2 linked regions of the Homo sapiens genome follow. The protein of the gene in region 1 purifies or fractionates together with the protein of each later gene. This does not show direct contact. Each region holds a gene or a part of one and is shown in the gene's direction. Other genes may lie near its edges.

The links. Proteins that work in one complex are often made in the same cells at the same time.
Region 2: the proteins of POLR3H (region 1) and POLR2H purify together in Homo sapiens (affinity purification with mass spectrometry; 5 studies listed by BioGRID and IntAct, with this or other methods). This does not show direct contact.

The regions. Positions count from the first base shown.
Region 1 is NC_000022.11:41,541,462-41,549,192, reverse strand, and holds the start of POLR3H (DNA-directed RNA polymerase III subunit RPC8), read left to right. Parts: upstream 1-4,722; 5' UTR 4,723-5,091; coding exon 5,092-5,202; intron 5,203-7,731.
Region 2 is NC_000003.12:184,357,316-184,364,709, forward strand, and holds the start of POLR2H (DNA-directed RNA polymerases I, II, and III subunit RPABC3), read left to right. Parts: upstream 1-4,394; 5' UTR 4,395-4,831; intron 4,832-4,925; exon of another isoform or gene 4,926-5,189; intron 5,190-5,290; exon of another isoform or gene 5,291-5,409; intron 5,410-5,557; 5' UTR 5,558-6,177; coding exon 6,178-6,250; exon of another isoform or gene 6,251-6,259; intron 6,260-7,394. Other genes in the region: CLCN2 (chloride channel protein 2), read right to left, coding at 47-172, 305-383, 464-541, 647-780, 867-995, 1,367-1,498, 1,660-1,816, 4,102-4,164. UniProt on the Homo sapiens protein: DNA-dependent RNA polymerase catalyzes the transcription of DNA into RNA using the four ribonucleoside triphosphates as substrates.

The DNA.
Region 1 (7,731 bases):
AGGCTGGTCTCGAACTCCTGACTTCTAACGTCATGGCGGGGCACAGCCTGGTGGTCGTGATTAGGGACTCTGGGGCCTGGGTCCCAGGTTTGCCACTTACTGGCTGTATGACCTTGAATGACCTACTTAACCTCTGTTTACCTTAGATGAGGCAAAATGAGACAATTGGGCAAGTGAGATAACGATGATAGCTCCTACTGTATACAGCTGTTCTGAGGATCAAACTTAATGCATATAAAGCACCTAAGTAGTACTTGACATATAGTAAGTGCTCATGAATGTTAGCTGTTAATATAATCATAAGGCCCTCTGATCTGGATGCTGCTTAGGTCTCTAACCTCTTAGCTTACCAGTTGTCATCTCCCATGTAAATCAGCCCGAATATTATTATTTATTTCAGAGACAGAGTCTTGCTCTGTCACCCAGGCTGGAGGGCAGTGGCATGATCAAAGCTCACTGAAGCCTCAAATTCCTGGGCTCAAGCAATCCTCCCAACTAAGCCTCCCAAGTAGCTAGGACTACAGGCAAGTGCCATCACACCCAGCTAATTATTTTATTTTTTTAGTAGAGACAGTATCTCACTTTGTTACCCAGGCTGGTCTCAAACTGACCTTAAGCAATCCTCCTGCCTCGGCCTCCCAAAATGTTGGGATTATAGGCATGAGCCACTGTGCCTGGCTCCAAATACTTTTAATTACCTGAGAGTACAAACTCGCTCTTTCTCTCAGTGCCCACCCTGCTGCCCCCCAACTCCAGCACCAAGTGCTCTGAGTTGAAGCTCGGTTTGAGGCCCAGTTTTTCTTCTGCATTGCATCTCCAACAACTGTACACAACAGTATGTTGAATGAATGCACGAATGAATGAGAACAGCATCACATGTGGGTTCTGTTTTGGGCTGTTCTCACGTTGCTATAAAGAAATACCTGGGCCTGGCGTGGTGGCTCACGCCTGTAATCCCAGCACTTTGGGAGGCCGAGGCAGGCAGATCACCTGAGGTCATGAGTTTGAGACAAGCCTGGTCAACATGGTGAAACCCCGTGTCTACTAAAACTACAAAAATTAGCCAGTCGTGGTGGCATGTGCCTATACTCTCAGCCACTCAGGAGGCTGAGGCAGGAGAATCGCTTGAACTCAGGAGGCGGAGGTTGCGGTGAGCTGAGATGGCACCTCTGCACTCCAACCTGGGTGACACGCACAAAAAAAAAAAGAAAGAAAAAAGAAATACCTGGCTGGTAGTGGTGGCTCATGCCTGTAATCCCAGCACTTTGGGAGGCCGAAGCTGAGGATCACTTGAGGTCAAGAGTTTCAGACCAGCCTGGCCAACATGGCAAAACCTTGTCTCTACTGAAAGTACCAAAATTATCCAGGTGTGGTGGTGCACGCCTGTAATCCCAGCTAGTCTGGAGGCTGAGGCAGAAGAATCGCTTGAAATGGGGAGGTGGAGGTTGCAGTGAGCCCTGATAGCGCCACTGCACTCCAGCCTGGGCAACAGAGCTGGTTAATTTATAAAGAAAATAGGCTGGCTGGGCACGGTGGCTCACGCCTGTAATCCCAGCACTTTGGGAGCCCAAGGCGGGTGGATCATGAGGTGAGGAGATCGAGGCCATCCTGACTAACACGGTGAAACCTCATCTCTACTAAAAATACAAAAAACTAGCTGGGCGTGGTAGCGGGTGCCTGTAGTCCTAGCTACTTGGGAGGCTGAGGCAGGAGAATGGCATGAACCCGGGAGGTGGAGCTTGCAGTGAGCCGAGATCATGCCACTGCACTCCAGCCTGGGCGACAGAGCAAGAATCCGTCTCAAAAAAAAAAAAATAGGTTTAGTTGGCTCATGGTTCCACAGGCTTTACAGCAAGCATGGTACTGGCATAGGCTCAGCTTCCAGGGATGCCTCGGGAAGCTTCCCATGATATCGGAAATCAAAGGAGGAGCAGGCACATCACATGGGGAAAAGAGGAGCAAGAGAGAGAGTGGGAGGAGGGAGGTGCTACACACTTTTTTTTTCAAGATGGAGTTTTGCTCTTGTTGCCGAAGCTGGAGTACAATAGCGCGATCTCTGCTCACCAGAACCGCCACCTCCTGGGTTCAAGCGATTCTTCTGCCTCAGCCTTCCTGAGTAGCTGGGATTACAGGCATGCGCCACCACGCCCGGCTAATTTTGTATTTAGTAGAGACGGGGTTTCTCCATGTTGGTCAGGCTGGTCTTGAACTCCTGACCTCAGGTGATCCGCCCACCTTGGCCTCCCAAAGTGCTGGGATTACAGGCATGAGCCACACGCCTGGCCACCACACACTTTTTTTTTTTGAGACGGAGTCTCACTTTGTCGCCAGGCTGGAGTGCAGTGGTGTGATCTCAGCTCACTGCAACCTCTGCCTCCCGGGTTCAAGTGATTCTTCTGCCTCAGCCTCCCAAGTAGCTGGGACCACAGGCGCGTGCCACCACGCCCGGCTACTTTTTTTTTTTTTTTTTTTTTTTTGTATTTTTAGTAGAGACAGAGTTTCACCGTGTTAGCCAGGATAGTCTCAATCTCCTGACCTTGTGATCCACCCACCTCGGCCTCCCAAAGTGATGGGATTACAGGTGTGAACCACCACGCCTGGCCCCGCCACATACTTTTAAATGACCAGATATTGGCTAGTCACGGTGGCTCATGCCTGTAATCTCAGCACTTTGAGAGGCCAAGATGGGGGGGATCACCTGAGGTCAGGAGTTCGAAACCAGCCTGGCCAACATGGTGAAATCTTATCTAAAAATACAAAAGTTAGCTAAGTGTGGTGGTGGGCACCTGTAATTCCAGCTATTTGGGAAGCTGAGGCAGGAGAATCGCTTGAACCCAGGAGGTGGAGGTTGCATTGAGCTGAGATCATGCCACTGCACTCCAGTCTGGGCGACAGAGCAAGATTCCGTCTCAAAAGAAAAAAAAAAGAAAAGGCCTGAACCGAAGCAATAGCAGTGGGAGTGGAATGAAGAGGAAACATTTGAGAGGAAGAATTAATGGTAATCCCTAAACACCTTTACTCAATGCTTCCTAGGAATGTGTTAGGGGATTGTGGGAATAAAGAGCTGAAGTAGCATTTGCTGCTGTCCTCAAGTACCTCAAATCCTATAGAAGCACACCTAAAAATAAAATCATAGATGCAGGGAAGGCCACATTTAGCATCACTGCAGCCAGTGTCACTGAGAGATCACTATGCTTGTGAAATCAGCAAATTAAGGCACCATACATTTCCAAGTGCCTCTGTCATTTACCCCAAGTATCTTTTGTAAGTACCTAAATTGTTATTTTGGTTAAAACACACTACAAGCCCGGGCGCGGTGGCTCACACCTGTAATCCCAGCACTTTGGAAGGCTGAGGTGGGCAGATCATGAGGTCAGGAGATCGAGACCATCCTGGCTAACACGGTGAAACCTCGTCTCTACTAAAAAAAAATACGAAAAATTAGCCAGGCGTGATGGTGGGCGCCTGTAGTCTCAGCTACTCGGGAGGCTAAGGCAGGAGAATGGCGTGAACCCGAGAGGCGGAGCTTGCAGTGAGCCAAGATCGCGCCACTGCACTCCAGCCTGGGCGACAGAGCGATCCTCCGTCTCAAACAAACAAACAAACAAAAAAACCCACTACAGTATACATCTACACCCCACCAATTTTTAGAGGCAGGGTAGTGAGGTTCAGACTGGGCCCACCTCTACCACTTGTCAACACGTGATCTTGGGTAAGCTACCAAATTCTCTTAGCCCATGCTATCACGTGAAGATGAATGAGACTGGAATGTCAGCGAGACAGAGCATGATGGGGCTATAGGAGGGGGGTATGGTCAGATCTTGCAGGGCCGTGTGAACTACCATAAAGGTTTTGGACTTTTCTTCTTTCTTTCTTCTTTTCTTTCTTCTTTCCCTTTTCTTTCTTCTTTCTTCTTCTTCTTCTCCTTCTTCTTTCTTCTTCTTCCGCCTCTCCTTCTTCTTCTTTTTCGTTTAGACATGAGGTGTCACTGTCACCCATGCTAGAGTGCAGCATGCAACCTCAAACTGCAACCTCAAACTCCTGGACTCAAGCGATGCTGCTGTCTCAGGCTTCTGAGTAGGTGGGACTACGGGTGTACACCACCACGCCCGGCTTGGATCTAGTATTCTAAGTTCAATGGGTTGTGTTTTTTGTTCCAATTTATTATAACTTTTCAATTGGAACATAATGTCTACAAATAAATGCAAAAATCTTGCCGAGTTCAATTAGTTTGGACAATTATATACGTCAATGTTATACCACCGAAAACAAAATACAGAACATTTCCATCATCTCAGAACAGTCCCAAGTGCCCCTTTCCTGCTAATTCTCCTTGTCTCCGGAACACTTAAGGGTGCTAAGCATGTTATGTTTGCGGTGGGTTTTTTTTTTAACTTAGATGTGGTAATATATGTTTGCGTTTCCAAAGGATCACTCTGGCTGCCGAGCAGAGGACAGCAATGCGGGTAAAGCACAGGCCAGGCGAGGGATAATCAGGCGGGATTGCACGGAGGTCGCCTAGCAACAGAAAGCGCTGTCGGGGGCGGGGGAACCGCTCTGCTCCTGTGAAAGGAGGAGGCCCCGCCCTCTCCTCGCCCTCTCTCTGCCCCACGCTGTGCGCGAGCACACAGGCAGCCCCGCCCCGCCTCGGCGGGGTGGGGGTGGACAGAGGTTTCTTATTGGTGAGTTTTCCGGAAGCGATGGATTCGGAATCTCGCCCGCAGTCGCGCAAGCGCGAGCGGCTGTGCGCGGTGCGTGGTGCGTGGTGCGTGATACGAGCGGCGGCACGTGGCGCGGGTGCGGGGCGTGGAGTGGCGTGGCGTGGAGTGGCGTGGCGTGGCGGGGTCTCGCGGCGCGGGCGCGCACCCGGAGCTGTGGACGGAGAGTGCCTCCCTCTGGCCTCAGTTTCCTCATGTTGTAGTAGCGGAGCATGGCCCGGACCGGGCCCCCGAGACCGCCCCGTGCAACCTCACCGCCAGCCTGGGGGCCTCAGCGACTGGGACGGGACCAAGGGGCTCGGGGATTCTCCCTGCCCCCGGCCCTGGTGCGTGACTGACCCTCCTGTTCCCAGAGCCCCCAGCGCAGGCCGGGATGTTCGTCCTGGTGGAAATGGTGGACACCGTCCGGATCCCCCCTTGGCAGTTTGAGAGGAAGCTCAACGACTCCATTGCCGAGGAGCTGAACAAGAAGTTGGCCAACAAGGTACTGGGCCCACGGCTCGCGGGCAGGCCTTGGCGTGGGAGAGCGAGCGCCGCCCACTGGCCGCAGGCCCGGCCTCGGTCATGCCAAGCCCTGGCCGTGGGCAAGCAGCTTAATGTCTCAGAACTTTTCTTCACCGTGAAAGGAGATATTGAAGGGGATCAAAAGAAAATGGGCTTGAAAAAGGGAGTTGTAACTGGAAGTGTTAGATTCCACAATTCTAAATTACTTTGCAATTGCAGGCAAGTTACTGACCCCTTCTGGGCCTCAGTTTCCATTTTTAAAATGGGGATAAAATATTGCTGTCCTTCCAGCCATGCATTGTTTTTGTTGTTGTTGTTGTTTGTTTTGTTTTGTTTTGTTTTTTGTTTTTGAGACGGAGTCTTGCTCTTTCGTCCAGGCTGGAGTGCAGTGGCGCGATCTCGGCTCACTGCAACCTCCGCCTCCCGGGTTCAAGCGATTCTCCTGCCCCAGCCTCCCGAGTAGCTGGGACAACTACAGGCGCGCGCCACCACCCCCAGCTAATTTTTGTATTTTTCGTAGAGACGGGGTTTCACCATTTTGGCCAGGATGGTCTCGATCTCTTGATCCCCCCGCCTCGGCCTCCCAAAGTGCTGGGATTACAGGTGTGCGCCATCGCCTCGGGTCAATGCATTGTTTTCGTGAAGATGGAGAGTTCTAGTAGTACAGAATTAACTGTCAGGAGGTTCATCCCTTCATTCCAGCAGCCAATATTTGTGCGCCTTCTCTGTGCTGTGCCTGTGTGCCTTAGTACCAGCTGAGAGGTCTTCCCACTGCCGTTTCTTTGACAGTCCTCCCTTTCCAGGTATTCTGTGTCACATCACTCTCTTTCCTTCTTAGACTTTTTCCTTTCCCTCTCCTTGAGAGCAGGGACCTTATCTGCCTTCTTCCCTGAAGTATCCCCTCATTTAGCCAAAGCCTGGCGGGAGTAGATGTCCCATAATTTTCTGTTTTGTGTTTGTGTGTGTGAGACAAGAGTGCCGCTCTTGTCGCCCAGGCTGGGGTGCAATGAAGCGATCTTGGCTCACTGCAACCTCCACCTCCCAGGTTCAAGCTATTCTTCTGCTTCAGCCTCCTGAGTAGCTGGGATTACAGGCACCTGCCACCACACCTGGCTAATTTTTGTACTTTTAGTAGAGACGGGGTTTCACCATGTTGGCCAGGCTGGTCTCAAACTTCTGACCTCAGGTGATCTGCCTGCCTCAGCCTCCCAAAGTGCTGGAATTACAGGTGTGAGCCACCGTGCCCGGCCATTTGTTGACTGAATGAATGAAACAGAGACAAGGCTCTGTGCTATAGTGTGGTGGGAAAGCAGATATGAATGAGAAGGGTCCACAGTTGAGTGTTTGGTGACAAATTGAGGTAAATGTTATGAGGGACAGGTGTTCACACACCTGTGGAACAAAGGAACGTCCCCTGGAATGAGGGGACCTGCAGCTTTGTTGAGGAGGTGGGGTTGAAGGTGAGATCTGATGGTGAAGTGGAGCCAACCAGAGGATTCCTTTCTAGGGTGGGAGGGGGCTGGGTGGAGAGAAGAGCCCTGAAGGCAGGAACTGGCATGTGCAAAGGCCCTGTGAAGAAGGAATACAGGCCGGGCGTGGGGGCTCACACCTGTAATCCCACCACTTTGGGAGGCTGAGGCGGGTGGATCACCCAAGGTCAGGAGTTTGAGACCAGCCTGTCCAACATGGTGAAGCCCCATGTCTACTAAAAATACAAAAAATAGCTGGGCATGGTGGCAGGCACCTGTAATCCCGGCTACTTGGGAGGCAGAGGGAGAAGAATCACTTGAACCCAGGAGGCAGAGGTTGCAGTGAGCTGAAATCGCACCACTGCCTTCCAGCCTGGGTGACAAGAGTGAAACTTCGCTTCAAAAAAAAAAGAAGAAGGGGTAAAATACCCACCATGGTGTGGAAGAGGCTGGTGTGGCTTGGGCAGAGGGGAGGGTGGGCTGGACAGGTGGGTGGGGGCCAGGCCACACAGCCCTGTAGGATGTCGGAGTTGAGGTATTGGTCTTTATCCGTGGAGCATCAGAAGGTGATGGGCTGAGAAGGAGCCAGAAAGAGGATGCTTAGCTGGCTTTACGCATGAGACAGGTCCCTTCAGAAGAGGTGAGGTTGATTTGGGGGTTGCTAGATAGTGAAGGGAACTCATGGAGTCTTTAAGTGGATGGCTTCTGGTTACTTTGTGAGGTTGAAGATGAGGGTCTGTTGGGGGATGGAGGTGTGGACCTTGAGAGAGAAGGTGTGGAAAGTCCAAGAAGGGAATATAGTCCCTTTGGGGTAGAGGTCCTGTTGGGACAAGTCTTCTAGTATTTGATTAGATGAATCGTTTGAGAGGGGGCCCACACAGAAATCCATGGTCTGACAAAGGGCACAGATCTTGTGGCATTATCTTGGTGAGGTCTGGCCACGACTCTGAGTTCTCTGAGCTTCTTGCTAATTCTTGGACAGTTCTTGCAAGGGTTCTAAGTGGGGGTGATGACACGGTGGCAGATAAGGAGACACTGAG
Region 2 (7,394 bases), on another chromosome or scaffold:
TACCTGGCACCATCTCGGGCTGCCCTCATCCCCTGGGTGCCCCCACCTTCATCCCGGTTCCAGACTGCCAAGACCCGGAAGATGAAGGCACTGAAGGTGGCAGCGAAGAAGCCCCGCCAGTAGTTCCGCACTGCAAAGAAGGTGGAGGTGACCTCGATGCTGAAGAGGACGCCTGTGAGGGGGAGGGAGACCAGCACTTGAGGCCTGGGCCTGGCCTAAGGCCTCAGACCCAGATAAGAGGGGCCAAGGAGGAGAGGCCAAGGGCAGGGTTGTGGGGCTGGACTGACCTAGGAGCCCTGCCTACCTCCAATAGGTGCCGCGAAGCAGCAGCCCACCCCCACGGCACAGGCGGCAGCCAGCATCTCTGTGTTCCGGGATTCATTCTGGCGAGAGTGGTGGCAAGAGGGGGTCAGCTGTGGGCTCAGCAGCCTCTGCCCCCTACTTGCCCCAGGGTTCCCCTTACCTCATAGATACCCCCAAAGAGGGAGAGGAACTTGCTGAGAAGGGCAGCACACATGCTTGCGATATGCACAAAAGGGCCCTGCGGGGTGGGGCAGGCGGTGAGTCGGGAGGGGGCCCGCCCTGACCTTGGCCTGGCCTCCTCTTCCACCAGGAGGGACTCCTTCATTCCCCAGCCTGCAGTTACCTCTTTGCCAAGCGGCATCCCGCTGCCTAGGGCGCAGGTCAGCCCAATGACCTTAGCTATAAAGGTCTTGAGTGTGAGGTATTCTTTCAGCACCACTCCCCGCAAGATGGTCTTCATCTCAGGGATGCCAGAGCCTGGAGAGGGAACAGTCTCAGGAGAGGCATTCGATGCACCCATTTCAGGGGTCCCGCCTCTGCCCTCCCCTTCTCTTCTAACATACCGACAGCCTGAGGGGCCAGGATCTGTGTGAATCCGGCTGAGAAAGTGATGAGGACAACAGGGTAGGTGACCCAGGCCAGGTACTGGAGCAAGATGCTGGTGTTCAAGCCCCGGGACATCCACTGCTGGGCTGTGGGAAGAGGACCTGCTGGACCCCCAGTGCACACACCCACTGCCTGCCTGGCCAGTGGACCACGCTGATACGACAGGCTGTCCCAGGGAGTACCACACAGAGTCAGGGCATGGGTGAAGGAAAGGGTCCCTGAGGGTATTCACTGGGACAAAGCGCAATCTAGGCAAGAGGATCACTTGGAGAGGGGATGCAAGAAGCTGTGCCCTGTGGGAGTGGCCGAGATGATGCCTGAATCTGGGCAGTCAGACTGGCTGGGGAAAGTGGTCAGTGGCCAAGAAGCCAAGACGCCTTCCTCCATGTCTAGACGAGTGTGGCATGGACGCAGGAGGTTTATTCCCAGTCCTCCCCCTGCCAGCTGTCACCCTCACCTTGCAGACAGGCAGCAATGGCATAGTCCATGACCCAGCTGACCAATGCCATGAGAAGCCCCAGCAGGACCAGGAAGATCCAATCTTCACCAACCCTGGATACTAGGAACTTGTGGCAGCGGACAGAACAGACTGGGTGCAGGGAAGGGAAGAAGGGGGAGGATGGCACCAAAGTGCTCCTACCCCTTTTACTGCCCCCTCAACTGTCCCCTCTCCCCCATCAGCAGCTCTAATGGCCTCTGCTTCCCTCAGCACAGCACAGCCAGGTCCCCTGCCCCCACCCCAGTTCTCACCGCGGCATCGGGCGCAACGGCTCCGTCCATATTCCAAGAGCTCTGGGGCAGCCCGAGAGGAAGGGGGACCTTTCCAGGGTTCAGGCCCTCCCAGGCGAATCCGAGCAGCTTCCTCTTTGGCAAAGGCCCCAAGGTCCTGAGTGTACCGGCCATACATCTGGAGCAACAGAGGGGATGGGGGCATTCGAGGTCATGGGCTGAGTGGGAACGCAGGGAGAGTTCTTAGAGCCTCCACTCCTCTTCTCCCAGCCCCCACACTGGATATCCCTCTTGAACGCACAGTTCCCACTCTGGCCCGAGGTGTGGGAACAATGCACATTGCAGACTGTGGAGGCTGTCCTGGCCAGAGTGATGGGGACAGCCAAGGTACAGGGACACAGCTCTGGGGGTGGCAGAATAATCGGTCCTCTTCTCACAGGCCTGGGGCTGGGGCACTGAAGAGGAGTGAGAGGGAAGCCCCAGAAGAGGAAAAGGTGGAAAAACCTGTGGCACAGTCTAAAAGTGGGAGGCGGGAAGGCCAGGGAGTAAGGGATGATCAGGGGCACATGGGCAACAATAAGAGCCTCGTGGAGCTCGGGGCAGCTGAGTTGGGCCCAGGAGCAGGCGCAGCCCCAATCCTTATCACGTTCCTGCTGGGCCTCCGGCCTGTGACCAACTCAGCTGCACCTCTCCCACCCACCCTAATCCCCTTGTCCCCATTCTCCACTGCCACCCCCACCAGCCTGCCAGCCCAGCTGGGAGTGGAAAGCCTCTCACTTAGGGTGGGTGGAGAGGGCTTGGTGGCCTCAGCCCCATTCTGGAGCTGCACTGAGCCCAGCGGTGGGTTGGGGGACAGCGGAGGCTGAGGATGGCTGGGCTGTGACTGTGGATGCTGGGGTGATGGGACGGGAGAGTCGCCTGAACCATGGCTAGACCTGCCAAGCTGGGCGTGTGTTGGGGGGCGGGGAGGAGTAGATTCTGGCTGCCACCCGCAGAGCTTCGGGACACAAAGGGCTCCTGTTGGGGCTGGGATGGGGGGGAGGGAGGGAGGGAAAGATAGAGACAGAGAGAGGGTGAGAGATAGGAAAGGGAAAGCAAAGAGAAGAGAGGGAACTAGAGAGGAGAAAGTAGAAGAGAAAAGAGAGGGAAGGCGAAGGGATGGAGAAGAGAAAGAAGGGGATGAGAGAGGAAGAAGTACGGAGGAGGAAGAGAATGGAGAGTATTAAGAGGCAAGCACGGTGTAGGAGGAGGGAGGTGAGAGTGGGAGAGAAAGACAAAGGGATAGGATGGTGAAGGGGGGCGGGAGCAGGCTGGAGCACAGAGTGCCCGGGACAGAGCTCGACCCTGAGAGCTCATTCCAGAGACAGCTGGAAGGGACGGAGATGGAGAGGTGGCTGGTGTTAAGAGGCACCATTTCAGAGGCCAGGTGCCTGGCTTCCTTGACCATGCTCCTATCCTGGTCTGGGCAGATTGGCAAGTGTCTCCTACCCCATCCCAAGGGTTGGCCCCTCTACCCTTGCTCTACTCCCACCTCTCCCTGACATCCTGATTCATCCAGCTACTTTCTCCTAACTGGGCACCTCCCAGACTTATAGCCTCTCCTCTCCAAGACGTTCCCTCCCTGCCACCTTCCTGGGCAAATTCCAGCCCAAGCTGGTAAAAAGGAACCACGGGCCCCTTCCTTTCCCTAGGGCTTGGGTCTTCCACCCCAGTGACATGAGGAGGGTCACGTGGCTTCTCAAACACCAAGTAACAATGGGGGCGATAAGTCAGCTCAGAGCCCAGGACCCCTGCTTCTAATGAGGTCAGGGGACACACCCTGGGGTGGGTGGGGGCTGGATACCCCGCATCAGCATAGACAAAGGTCCCAATTCCCACACCCATTCCTGCTTCACCCACCCTCCCTAAAGCTCCTGTCCCCCAGAGTGGCAAGCCACCTTTTTCCAGAGTCAACTGAGGGGCTCCTGGAGCCAACGCTGGGTGTGGAGCCTCCAGAGGTAGGGTCTGGGGCTGACCATCTTTCTACACACTCGATTCTATGCTTAGCATGGTGCCATGCACATGGCAGGGACACAGAGAATGTCTTGGGTGGTGGAGATAGTGGCGTAGAGAAAGTTCAATGGTGTGAATGGTGCCGCGGAAGGGGCAGTGGGGTGCTGAGACTTGGGCCCAGGTGGTGAAGGGGAGGTGCAAAGAAAACGTGCATGTTGTGGGGTGAGGGGAAGGACACCTGAGACAAGTACCTGGTGTCCTTGTCCTCTGCAGGCCCTCAGCCTCAGCCAGAAACCAGCATGCAGTTTTCCATCCCTTCGGCCCTGCAGCCTCAGACTTCCAAGCCTCAGTTTCCCCAGCTCAAAATGCTAGGACAGGATTAGGGTAGGCCCCTGGTCCTCGCGCTTCCCAGGGTAACCTGGAGCAGGGGTCCCGGAGCGCACTCCTGGGGCTCAGCTCAGCTTCACTTACCAGGGTCTGCTCGTACTGCAGCGCCCGTGGCTCCATCCCTTCCTCCGCCGCCGCGGCCGCCATCTCCGCGCACTGCCCTCTCGCCTCCCTCGGCGGTTCCGGCTCTGTCCTGGACTCGGCTCCCGGCCCGCAAAGTCCGCGCCGGCAGCCGTCCCGTCCCCGCAGCCCGGGAGGCCGAGAGCAGAGTGCGGCGGGCCCCCGGCGGGCGCCGCTGGCGCAGCCTCCCGCTCGCGTCCCCTCCCCGGCGGGCGGGCCGAGGGCGGTGCCCTCTGCGCTGCTCCGCCCGCCGGCCCATCCGGAGGGGACGGCCCAGCCAGGCTGGGGTCCGCGCGGGGCCTCCCGAGAGGCGGCAAGGGGCGCTGGGAAGGCGCAAGCCCGCGCCGGCTCCCTGCGGATGCCCGGGTCGGAGAGGGGCGCCCGGGAGGGGCGGGTCTACTGGCACGTGGAGGGGCCGGCCCGGGTTCGCGGTTCCCCGTGCCCAGGCAGGAGGGGCTGCAGACGCCTGAGCTCCGTAGGGGTTGGGGCTGGGGGCTGCGGAGCTGTCTACATCGGACTCCTCCGGGTCAGCCCGTTAGGAGCCGCCTCCCCTCTGCCCCTCCGAAGAGACGAGCGGCCCAGACAGGCCTGGGAAGGCCCCTCTGCCCCGTCAGGGGTGAAAAGCAAAGCTGGAAGGATTCGGAGAGGGTTGGGGCCGTCTTCCTCATCCTTCCTTTTCTCGGGGCTCCCGTGGGTAGGTGCACTTGGAGCAACCGGGCCTGCGGGGTGTGCGGGGGTGGAGGTTGGGGAGGGCACCGGAAGGGGTAGGCCGGAGGGAAGGGAGCTCCAGGTGCCGGGAAGTCTACTCCTGGGACGCGGGCGTGGGTCGCTTCTCCCTGGCTGGGCCCAAGGAGGAACCCAAGTCGCTGCTTCCATCCCTCCGCTTTGGGGGAACTGCCTGCTGGTGTTCTGGGTTCTCTATCAGGGGCTGGGGAAGGATAGAACAGAGGGCGGAGCGCGCGCAGGGTGGATGGGCAGCGTAGAGATAGTGTGAGAGGAGCGAGGGCAGCGCCCAGGAAACGCACAAGTGTGCGGGAGAGCCAGCACCAGGAGTAAGGGGCATTTGGGAGGCAGAGGCGGGGCTCAGGGGGCGGGAGCAGTGCCCGGGAAGGGGGGGCCTTGTGATAGAAGCCAGCACTCAGGAGGAAGGGCCAGTGTGAGGGAAGAGCTGGTATCCAAGGGACAGGGCAGTGCCAGGCTGAAGGGGCACGGAGGGGATCCGTGTCCAGGAGAAGGCAGTGGAGGGGGAACGCGCAGCACTAAGCTGGAGGGGTAATGCCCGGGGGAGGGGGGTGGCGGGAGCCCGGCTGAAGGGGCGGTGTAGGGGAAGAGAGCAGGGCCTGGGGGGAAGAGGGAGGGCAGTGGTGGGAGGGTGCAGTACGAGAGGAGGGGACAATGCAGGCTTTCCTCTTCTCCATAGCGACGTCATGGCAAATTCCCAAACTGGACGGATCCGGCTCGGGTTACGTCCAGCAGGGCCGAGCCGGCCCAGGCCGGCCCCGGGGTCCTCGGTGCCGGCTGGAGGGGCTGGGCACCTCTGGGGCGGGGTTCTGCTCCACCTGCCCTCGGCGCGGACTGTGCCCTCGGCGGGCACGCGGACCGGCGGGGTAGGGCTAGGGCCCGGCTTCTCTGGGCCAAGGATCAAGGTCCCTGCCTGGGTTAGGCCCCCACGCATTCCAGTCTTCGGAACCCGGCCTCTGAAGAGGGCGCAGTAGGGCCCCAGCGGAGCGCGAGAACCCGCTCTACAGCCTATTGCTTCCCCGCCCTGGGCAGAGCCACCTGGACATGAGACCCGCCCTCAATGCCGAAGCCTCTCGGAAGCAATCTTTCGGGACGGAAGTTAAGTAGCCCCGAGCGGGAGGCTGTGGCGGAAGTGGTCGCGTTACCGCTTGTTTGTGCGCATGCGCCACTCTCGTCTGGCCGCCGCGCTTTCAGGAGGTGCTTTTGGTTCTCTCCGGTCTTGTCCACGCTAGGGGGTGCACGTACTCCCAACTGTGGTCGCGCTCTCACCCCTTCTGCTGCTCTCGTGGCCCCCTCGCGATGGCGGGCATCCTGTTTGAGGATATTTTCGATGTGAAGGATATTGACCCGGAGGGCAAGAAGTTTGACCGAGGTAAGTAAGGTATGTAGGGGCGGTTTGGAGGAAGAGGCTAACCTCGCGGACATGCCCCTGGGCCCCGTGTCCACCCAGCTCTTGTGGCCTGCCCCTACCAGCAGGTCCTGGTGTAGGGACCTCCCTCAGTAAACATTTTATGGATGAGAAAACGGAGACTCCCGAGCTCTCTCTGGCTTCACGCATGCCGTGCCCGGTGCCTGGGTGGCCTTTTGTCATGGTGCTGGCAAACTCCTAGGCATATTTATAATCGCTACCTGCTCTGTGCTAGACACTGTCTTGTGAGACCAGCCTGGCCAACATGGTGAAACCCCGTCTCTACCAAAAATACAAAAATTAGCCTGGCGTGGTGGCGGGCGCCTGTAATCCCAGCTACTTGGGAGGCTAAGGCAGGAGAATTGCCTGAACCTGGGAGGCGGAGGTTGCAGTGAGCCAAGATCGCGCCACTGCACGCCAGCCTGGGCGGCAGAGCGAGACTCCGTCTCAAAAAAATGACAGTCCTCATGAGGTGGGTGGTGCCTTTCCCATTTTTCTCTGAGAGGTTGAGTAAACCACCCAAGGCTTCACAGCGAGTAATCTGACTTCAGAGCCTATATTCTTGTATTGCCCTCAGAATCTTTAGCGCTTTGTGAAGTCTTCTTTGAGTTAGAGTTAGCTGCTTGGTATATACCTTTTTTTTTTTGAGACGCAGCCTTTCTCTGTTGCCCAGGCTGGAGTGTAGTGGCACGATTTTAGCTCACCACAACCTCCGTCTCCCGGGTTCAAGCGATTCTCTGCCTCAACCTCCCAAGTAGCTGGGATTACAGGCATGCGCCACCACGCCTGGCTAATTTTGTATTTTTAGTAGAGACAGGGTTTCACCGTGTTGGCCAGGCTGGTCTCAAACTCCTGATCTCAAATGATCCACCTGCCTCGGCCTCCCAAAATGTCGGGATTACAGGCATGAGCCACTGCACCGGCCTACACCTCTTTATTTTGTCATCTATCAATAATTTTCTCTTTGATGTCTCTTTCTTTGCCTGGAGACTAAGATGTTTTTCAAGACGGATACCAGTTCTTATACATCTTGGTCACTCCCCTCAGCACAGTGCCTAGCATAGAAAGAGAAAACCTTTGGATGATTGAATAACTTGCCCAGAGTCAG